3 separate regions of the Homo sapiens genome follow, and all the other regions are linked to region 3. The links come from fine-mapping of genetic effects on gene expression. A gene starts in region 3. Each other region holds a variant in brackets. All regions are shown on one strand. Distances are between the middles of the regions. Region 1 overlaps UBE2J1 (ubiquitin conjugating enzyme E2 J1). Region 2 has its middle 30 kb from the start of GJA10. Region 3 holds the start of UBE2J1 (ubiquitin conjugating enzyme E2 J1).

Region 1 (2,764 bases), 22 kb after region 3:
TGATTTAAAAAATATGACTGGATTGGTGCCAAAAAATAAGGATTATGGGAAAAAAATGATTTTCCTTCCTATATATAAAAGATTAACTGTCTTTGGAAGTCTTTTTGGTAACAGATTGTTTGGTTAAGTAGTCACATTTTTTTTGTTGTTGTTTCTCCAGTTTATTGAAGACTTTAAAGGGTGAGGGAAAATTGAAATAGAAGTTGGGCAAATATAGATTTGCCCTTTACCCAGCAATAACGTACGTAAAGTGGGAGTGAATAGTCTTGAGTGAGTCTCTCCTATTCAGAGAGTGAGCTGGGCAGAGAAAAGTTGGTTGAAGAAGAACAGGGTGGTAGTCTAGGGGGACTGAAGATGGAGGTCCAAGAAAAAAGTGTGTAGCGATGAGTTTAAATCATTTTTGTGTGATCCCAATGTAATTTTATGAATTGCAGGGGAAAACAATGAATTAATTTTAAGGTCAATATGTTTTAGTTCAAGATATTGAAAAAGCTTTCTAATTACTTTTTATTTCATAGTTTTTTTTCTAATAGAAGCATTCTATTACAAAAAGGAAGGTGGTAATCTTTTTTCACCTTTTAGGACAGCCTCCTAATGTTTGTGATGTATTTAAATCTTTTGTGTATTTTCAATCTATGTTAAGTCCCCTTGTTACATATTCCAGTTATACTTATTCCAGTTGTAATTTACTTTGTAATTATTTATTGTCTATCTCTCTTCCCAGAATGTAAGTTCTGTGAGGGTCAGGGGTCTCTTTCCGCTTCTCCACTGTATCCCCAGTGCCTGGCTTAGTGCCTTCTATATAGTAGATTGCCAATGTTTGTTTGTTGATTGAATGAATGAATCTTAGGATTGGTACTTTAAAAAATGCTAAGAATACAATTAAATAAATCAAGAAGTTTAAGTAAATTAGAGTGTACAAATAATGATGTTATTATAGTAGTATTTCTTGTTTTGATTTAGTACATAAAACTTAGAATTCTTATTCATAGATACAGGTCATTAATTGAGACTATTTTTAGTGAAAATACCAACAAGCAATAAATTGTCTAAAATTGCAAGTTAAGTTTTTAATTATATTTACATATAAACTATCTCAGAGTATGATTATATAATTTGACCACTATGAAAGTAACTGAAACCTGGTTTGGCTAAGGGTGGTTATTTTACATTAAGTATAATATAAATTAATTGAGATGTTATACATCAAATCCCAGATAAGCTATGATTTTTTTGTTGTTGTTAGCCTGAAGGAGAGGCAAGAGATTGCCACAACTCTAAATACCTCAGATAACATCAGGCCATCTGTTGCTTTTTAATGCAGATATTTTAGCATCAAAAAGCAATGGGAAATGTAGAAATGGGAAAAACACTGAAGGCAGTTTTGTTCTTGCAGTCTGTCAGATTTTCTCCTTTTCCCAGGGTAGGGATCGAGGTTCTGAATAAGCCATTTCATTTTATAATAAAAAGCAAAACTCCCTCACACATGCTGGTTATTCTAGAAAAATTTATATATATATCACTAGG[G/T]ACTTAACTAAGAATGTGATTTTTTATCTTTTTAAGGGAGAGTCTCACTCTGTTGCTCAGGTTGGAGTGCAGGCATGTGATCATAGCTCACCGAAGCCTCAACCTCCTGAGCTCAAGTGATCCTCTTGCCTTAACCTCCCAAGTAGCTAGGACCACAGGTGGGCATGACCACACCTGGCTAAGTTTTAAAATTTTTCTGTAGAGATAGTGTCTCACTATGTTGGCCAGACTGGTCTCAGATGCCTGGGCTCAAGCAGTCCTCCTGCCTCAACCTCCCAAAGTGCTGTATGATTGTTTTAAATAGGAAAAAATTTAGAATTTTATAATATCAAGGCACTTAATTTTTAGTTAGTGATATACCATCCAAAAGGCATCTGAGGCTGGGCACGTTGGTTCATGCCTATAATCCCAGCACTTTGGGAGGCCAAGGCAGGAGGATCGCTTGATCCCAGGAGTTCAAGACCAGCCTGGGCAATGTAACAAGATCCCATCTCTAAAAAAATAATGATTAAAAAAATAGAGACAAAAGGCATCTGAAACATAGGAACCTAATTAAAACATTATATGTATATACATATTTTCATTAAGCGTATGTGTTAAAATATCATCTAGACCAATGTTTTAAGGGATTGTTTTTCTAAATATATTAATAAAACTATTAAAAGGCCAAAAAGCTGTCCTAACTTATGACTTTTTTTTGAACCTAAATTTAGATGCCCCTCAAGGGATGTATTATTAGTAACAATCATTCTTGGTAGTGTTGCCCTTAGTCATATGTTGTCCTCTGAGATTGTGTATTCTTGAATAGATAACAAGTGTATTTACAAATCTTCTTTGCCAGTTTCAAACAAAGTTTCTTAAAATTTCCTAGTACGGACTCCAGAATTCCTCAGCAGCATCCTTTCATCAACCTACCCAACCTGTAGCTAAGAATACCTCCATGAGCCCTCGACAGCGCCGGGCCCAGCAGCAGAGTCAGAGAAGGTTGTCTACTTCACCAGATGTAATCCAGGGCCACCAGCCAAGAGACAACCACACTGATCATGGTGGGTCAGCTGTACTGATTGTCATCCTGACTTTGGCATTGGCAGCTCTTATATTCCGACGAATATATCTGGCAAACGAATACATATTTGACTTTGAGTTATAATATGGTTTTGTGACTTATGAGCTGTGACTCAACTGCTTCATTAAACATTCTGCATTGGGTATAATCTAAGAATTGTTTACAAAAAGA
Region 2 (2,764 bases), 570 kb before region 3:
TGAATTTTTTAAAAACTAAATGAAAGTAAATGAGAAAGAACATTAAGCCAACACCAAGATGCAGTGAGTTGCAAGGAAAGATGTTTAGAATTGTGGTTGAGGAATCCATACAGTCATGCATTGGTTAGTGAAGGGGGTACGTTGTGAGAAATGCATCCTTACGCAATTTCCTATTGTGAGAACATCAGGGTGTGCCACACCAACCTAGATGAGAAAGCCTATGACACACCTAGACTAGATGTTCCTAGATTGCAAACTTGTGCAGCATGTAACTGTACTGGATATGGTAGGCAATTGTAACACCAGGGTAAGTAGTTGTGTATCTTAACATAGAAAAGTTGCAGTAAAAATAGGGTTTACAATCTTATGGAACCGCTGTCATATATTCGTCCCATCATTGACCAAAACATGGTTATGCCATGCATGACTGTACAGTTTAAAAGTTGTATTCTAAAAGTGTATTTGATAGTTATGTCTTCGATTTTGATGTAAAGAGAAAACAAGATATCAAATGGTGGGCAGGTCGAGTGACCATGAGCGAACACTGGACTGGAGCTCGGAGGTGAGAGAAAGCCACTAGAGCAGAGCAGGGGGGTCTGAGCTGTCAGCGAGGCTGTAACCAGTGCATGCGCATGGTATCCGGGCAGGGCAGGGCTGTGCTGCCGAGATTCACGCTTCAAGGAGTGCATGCGACCGCCAGATGGGAAAACGGAAATTAAAAACTGCCAAGTTCTGCTCCCTCGGGCGAGTCTCCATGGGCACCTATGGAGTCAAGGAAGGCTTCCTGAGAGCAGGTCATGGGTTTTGCAAATGTGTGCTGCTGTGACAACGTCGCAGTCATAACATTTTCGGTACAAGAGGCGGATTACCTACGCCTGAAGATGTGAAGTTAATCCACTCTGAGAAAAACAGGTGGGTCAGAGTCCCAAAATTTTCTGTGGGAAAACCTGGTAATTTAGAACTGATGGTCATGTGCACCTTCAACCCTGACATCTGCTCTTGTGATACAAATAATGGTCATGCATTGAAGGAAAATAAACCTCACCAGCTGTTGCGTCCTGCAAAACAGGCGTCCCCGACCCCTGGGCCGCAGACTGGTTCCGGTCCATGACCTGTTAGGAACAGGCCGCACAGCAAGAGGTGAGCAGCTGGGGAGTGAAC[A/G]TTACTGCCTGAGCTCCACCTCCTGCCCCATCAGCGGTGGCACTGGATTCCCATAGGAGCGCGAACCCTACTGTGAACGGTGCATGTGCGGGATCTGGGTTGCAGCTCCTTATGAGACTCTAATGCCTGATGATCTGAGGTGGAACGGTGTCATCCCGAAAACATCCCCCCACCCCCGCTGCCTCTGGTCCGTGGAAAATTTGTCTTCCACGATACCAGTCCCTGGTGCCAAAAAGGTTGGGAATCGCGGCTACAAAAGAGCTTTTAAGCACTGTCCAGCCCCAGGTGGACAGCAGCCATTTTCTTTCCTACTTTACATGTGCTTCTTATGGGAAATTTGTATCTGCCTCTGGGGCAGTGAGGACAGGTTCCTTCTACACCAGGCCCTGCCAGCAGTTTTGTTGTATGTATTTGGAAATAACTGAGCTGTTCTTTGAAATCATTTTAGAGTCTTTCACTCTTCTCCAACCCACCACCTCACCCAACTCTGCCCCACCACTTGGGATGCATTAGCAAGATTGTACTTAATGTTTAACAGCAGCTGGTGAAGGTGCCGTGAGCAGAAATGGGTTTCCAATTCTCCTCACTGAGCACCTATGCCTTCGTGGTACAAGTGAACACAATACTTCCTGGTGTCAAAAAATCAAGGCCCAAAGAGATGGAGAAAGCCACACATCCCATTACGCAAGTGTCTTTCATTTCACTCAAGAGCATGACGCCTTCTGTCTCCACACCCGTCCCTGGTTCCTGCAGATCCTGACACACATCTGCCACTGGCCTGCTTAGCCACAAAGAGGCATTGCTGATTCTCCATGGCTAGTTCTTACTCTTTCTTCTTGAAGATAAGTGCATCCCTGAGACAGTGCCCTTCATCCCGAAGCAGTGAATGGAAACCTTCAGAGACATGCTAGCAGTCACTGGAAACATTACATTTTACACTGGGCCCTTCAGACTTTGTTTTTTCTTCTTTGTAGAGACAAGGCCTTGCTATGTTGCCCAGGCTGGAGTGCAATGGCTATTCACAGGCATCATCATAGTGCGCCGCAGCTGTGAACTCCTGGCCGCAAGAATCCTCTCACCTCGGCCTCCCAAGTAGCTGGGACTACAGGTGGGCCACCAGGCCCAGCTCAAACTTGTTTTTGTTGTTGTGTTGTTTTGAGACGTGCTCTGTTGCCAGGCTGGAGTGCAGTGGTCCAATCTTGGCTCACTGCAACTTCCGTCTCCCAAGTTCATGCGATTGTCCTGCCTCAGCCTCCCAAGTAGCTGGGACTACAGGCGCACACCACCACACCCAGCTAATTTTTGTATTTTTAGTAGAGACGTGGTTTCGCCATGTTGGCCAGGATGGTCTCGCTCTCTTGGCCTCATGATCCCCACACCTCGGCCTCCCAAAGTTCTGGGATTACAGGCGTGAGCCACCACACCCAGCCTCAAACTTGTTTTTTAAAACCTCCATTTGTGCTGTGTTTTTGACAACCCTGTAAAGACTTTTCAGAGTGAAAGAAATTGAAATTACAAAAAAAGTTGCCATAGAGGCCTCTGAAACCTATTGACAAACTTATTGACACAACATGACAGAAAGTGAATAAGAAATAAAGACTGG
Region 3 (2,764 bases):
TTTCATCAAGAAACTCACAGATTTAGATTAACTTTAACAATAGAAAACAAATCAAATTTAAGAGTTTATGTCTTTATATAACAGAATAAAACTTGCCCAACCTGATTAACCCTTTCTATCCTCCCCACCTTCCCAATCCCTCCCTCCTTTCCTTTAGTAAGGTCCCTACTCCTTAAGTCTTTTGAACTCAGTCCTCTCTCGATCCCACACATTGGACAATGAAGCAGTAAGTGTGTCCTTTGAAGTTTAACCTTTCATATTTGTATGCTTTCCCTCACATTAAATGTAATTCCTTTTTTTGACAGCTTTTACATCTAAACAAACCAAAAAAAACAAAACTCCTGCAATGCCTAAAACATGTCGTGCACCTAACACACTACCCGAGAAAAAAATTGTTATGAATATCCAACTCTGGCCAGAGCCGTGGCTCACGCCTGTAACCCCAGCACTTTGGAAGGCCGAGGCGGGCGGATCGCTTGAGTCCAGGAGTTCGAGACGAGCCTGGCCAACACGGTGAAACCGTGTCTCTAACAAAAATACAAAAAATTAACCGGGCATGGTGGCACACACCTGTGGTCCCAGCCACGCTGGAGGCTGAGGTGGGAGGATCGCTTGGGCCCGGGAGGTAGAGGCTGCAGTGAGCCAAGATCGCGCCACTGCATCCCAGCCTGGGCGACAGAGCGGTGACACCGTCACACACACACACAAAATAAAAAATAAAAAAAATCCTATTCCATTTCCTTGTCACTGGCTTTCCCCCTCCTCACTTAACCCCCGCCCCTCGCAACAGCAACTGAATCTAAAAACAAAGCCTTTCCCAGACCCTGCGGGACCGCGCGCGGGCAGCCGGCTGCGGACAGCTTTGCAGCCGGAGCCCGGCGCCCCCTCCGAGCTCTCGAGGGCCCGGGGGTCCCGGACCTCGCCTACAGCGGGCAGGGCCGGGACGAGAGGACGAGGACGCCGCTCGCTCCTGCACCTCCCCAAGCCGGCTTCGCCGGGCGGGCGGCGGCTGGGTAGTGACCGACCGCCACGAAGCTACTGCCACGTCAGGGCAACTTCACAAATCCCGGACGAGGGCGGGTGACGCAAGCCGGGCGGCCGCGGCAGGGCTGGGCCTGCGACTACCCGAGGAGGCTGACCTCCAGCCCGGGCGCCCGGTTCAGCGCCGCCCCGGCCGGCGCCGGTGCCTGCCAGGCACTCAGGGAGGCGGGGGCGCAGTGGAGGAGGCGGCGCCATCGCGAAGCGAGCGCCTCGCCCGCACTCAGCCTTGCCACCCCGCCCGCAGTCCAGGCTGGACTGGGCGGCATTTGCCGAGGCTCCTCGGCCAGGCCCCGTCCGCCCGAGCCGCGCTGAGACCCGGGCAGCGGCCGCGTGGAGAGGAGGTGGCAGCGGCCCGGGAGGCCGGAGCCAAGCCAGCGACCCACCATGGAGACCCGCTACAACCTGAAGAGTCCGGGTGAGCAGGGCTGGGGCCCCTGGGCGAGGAGGGCGGAGTGACCCTGGACCCCGGGGTGGTCGCCGCCTCGGTCCCCTCGCGTCTGGCGCCACTCGCGGCTCAGCTCCTGGTTTCGCGCTCTACGCGAGACCGCCGCCTGCCCGGGAAGTACAGGCCGCAGGGCGAGGTGGCCGGGTGGACGTCCGCTGCCAATCCCCCGGCCGGCCAGCGCGCCCCGCAGCACCCAGCCTCTCCCTTTTCTCATCTTCGCCTGGTCCCGTAGAGCTGGGTCAGAAACTCATCCCTGAGAACAGGTGTAAAGGTGATGTCGGTGGGCGATAGTCATCAACCCCCTCGCTGTACCTGGTCGCTATTCCCTCCCTGTCGCTGCCACCGGACTTCTATTTACTTCTATTTACTGCCGGCTGATTTACTCACATTTGAGGAGTTGGTCGTTTAAATATCCTATTTGCAGCACTTGGGCGAATACAATTACAGACATAAAGGAAATGTTCTGTAACTAAACCAGTTAACTATAGAGCTAAAGCAAAACAAAACAACAACAAAAAAACACCTCGTTGAGCCCTGTTCTTGAGAGCTAACCTTGATTTTTGCCAGACTGGCTAATATGAAATGTATCTGTATTCAGTCGTAGCGATTCCTTTCCTGCATTTAATGATCCTGCTTTATATTTACACAAGCAGTCCCAGCAATCCTAGCCTCTAATTACTTTCTGGTGCATTATAAAGATAAGCAACTAGCTTTCTCAGCTTAATAAAACAGGCTTGAAATGAATCATTGGATCCTCTAAATGGTATTTTTTCTATCTGTACCTTGATACATTTTGTCAGGGGGAAGAAACTCCACAGTTAACTCTGCATGATAAACTCTAGGATATTAGTGATGATTTCACCAACTTTTGCTGTTGCTTAAAATTTCCTTCCAAAAAAAGCTGTTTCTCAGTAGGAATTAGCAAGACTAGCATCCTTGTGGAAAGAGTTGACACTGTGAATCTTTGGGTTTTTTGTAAGGTTTCAGAATATGCAAAAACCCCAGAAAAGCCTGAGGATATTGATTGGAGGGAGCTTTGTTAGCCTGAGTGCTGTCAGGCTAAGAAATGTCCTTAGGTGACCAAGTGTGTAGAACTGGTCATAATATTTTAGGAGCCACTGACTCCTTAAAAAAATCTGATGAAGACCTGGCACGGTGGCACACGCTTGTAATCCCAGCACTTTGGGAGGCTTGAGCCCAGGAGGTGGAGAGCAGCCTGGCCAACATGGTGAAACCCCGTCTCTACTAAAAACACAAAAATCAGCCGGGCATGGTGGT

What was found. PIP is the estimated chance that this variant, and not a neighbour inherited with it, causes the effect.
Region 1: its variant is fine-mapped to the expression of UBE2J1 in whole blood (TOPMed, PIP above 0.99).
Region 2: its variant is fine-mapped to the expression of UBE2J1 in esophagus muscle (GTEx, PIP 0.99).

What each region holds. Positions count from the first base shown.
Region 1 is chr6:89,329,592-89,332,355 of GRCh38, reverse strand. It overlaps UBE2J1 (ubiquitin conjugating enzyme E2 J1), which reads left to right. Exons shown (of 8, transcript NM_016021.3): 8 at 2,399-2,764. The coding sequence ends at 2,677. Among named protein-coding and RNA genes, the nearest start is that of GABRR2, 16 kb to the right of the region's middle. The variant G/T (reference allele first, on the strand shown) is at 1,528.
Region 2 is chr6:89,923,423-89,926,186 of GRCh38, reverse strand. No RefSeq gene overlaps it. Among named protein-coding and RNA genes, the nearest start is that of GJA10, 30 kb to the right of the region's middle. The variant A/G (reference allele first, on the strand shown) is at 1,162.
Region 3 is chr6:89,351,231-89,353,994 of GRCh38, reverse strand. UBE2J1 (ubiquitin conjugating enzyme E2 J1) reads left to right here and starts at 1,273. Exons shown (of 8, transcript NM_016021.3): 1 at 1,273-1,456. The coding sequence starts at 1,426. RefSeq lists silencers at 812-911, 922-1,631, 1,662-1,721 and an enhancer at 1,018-1,967.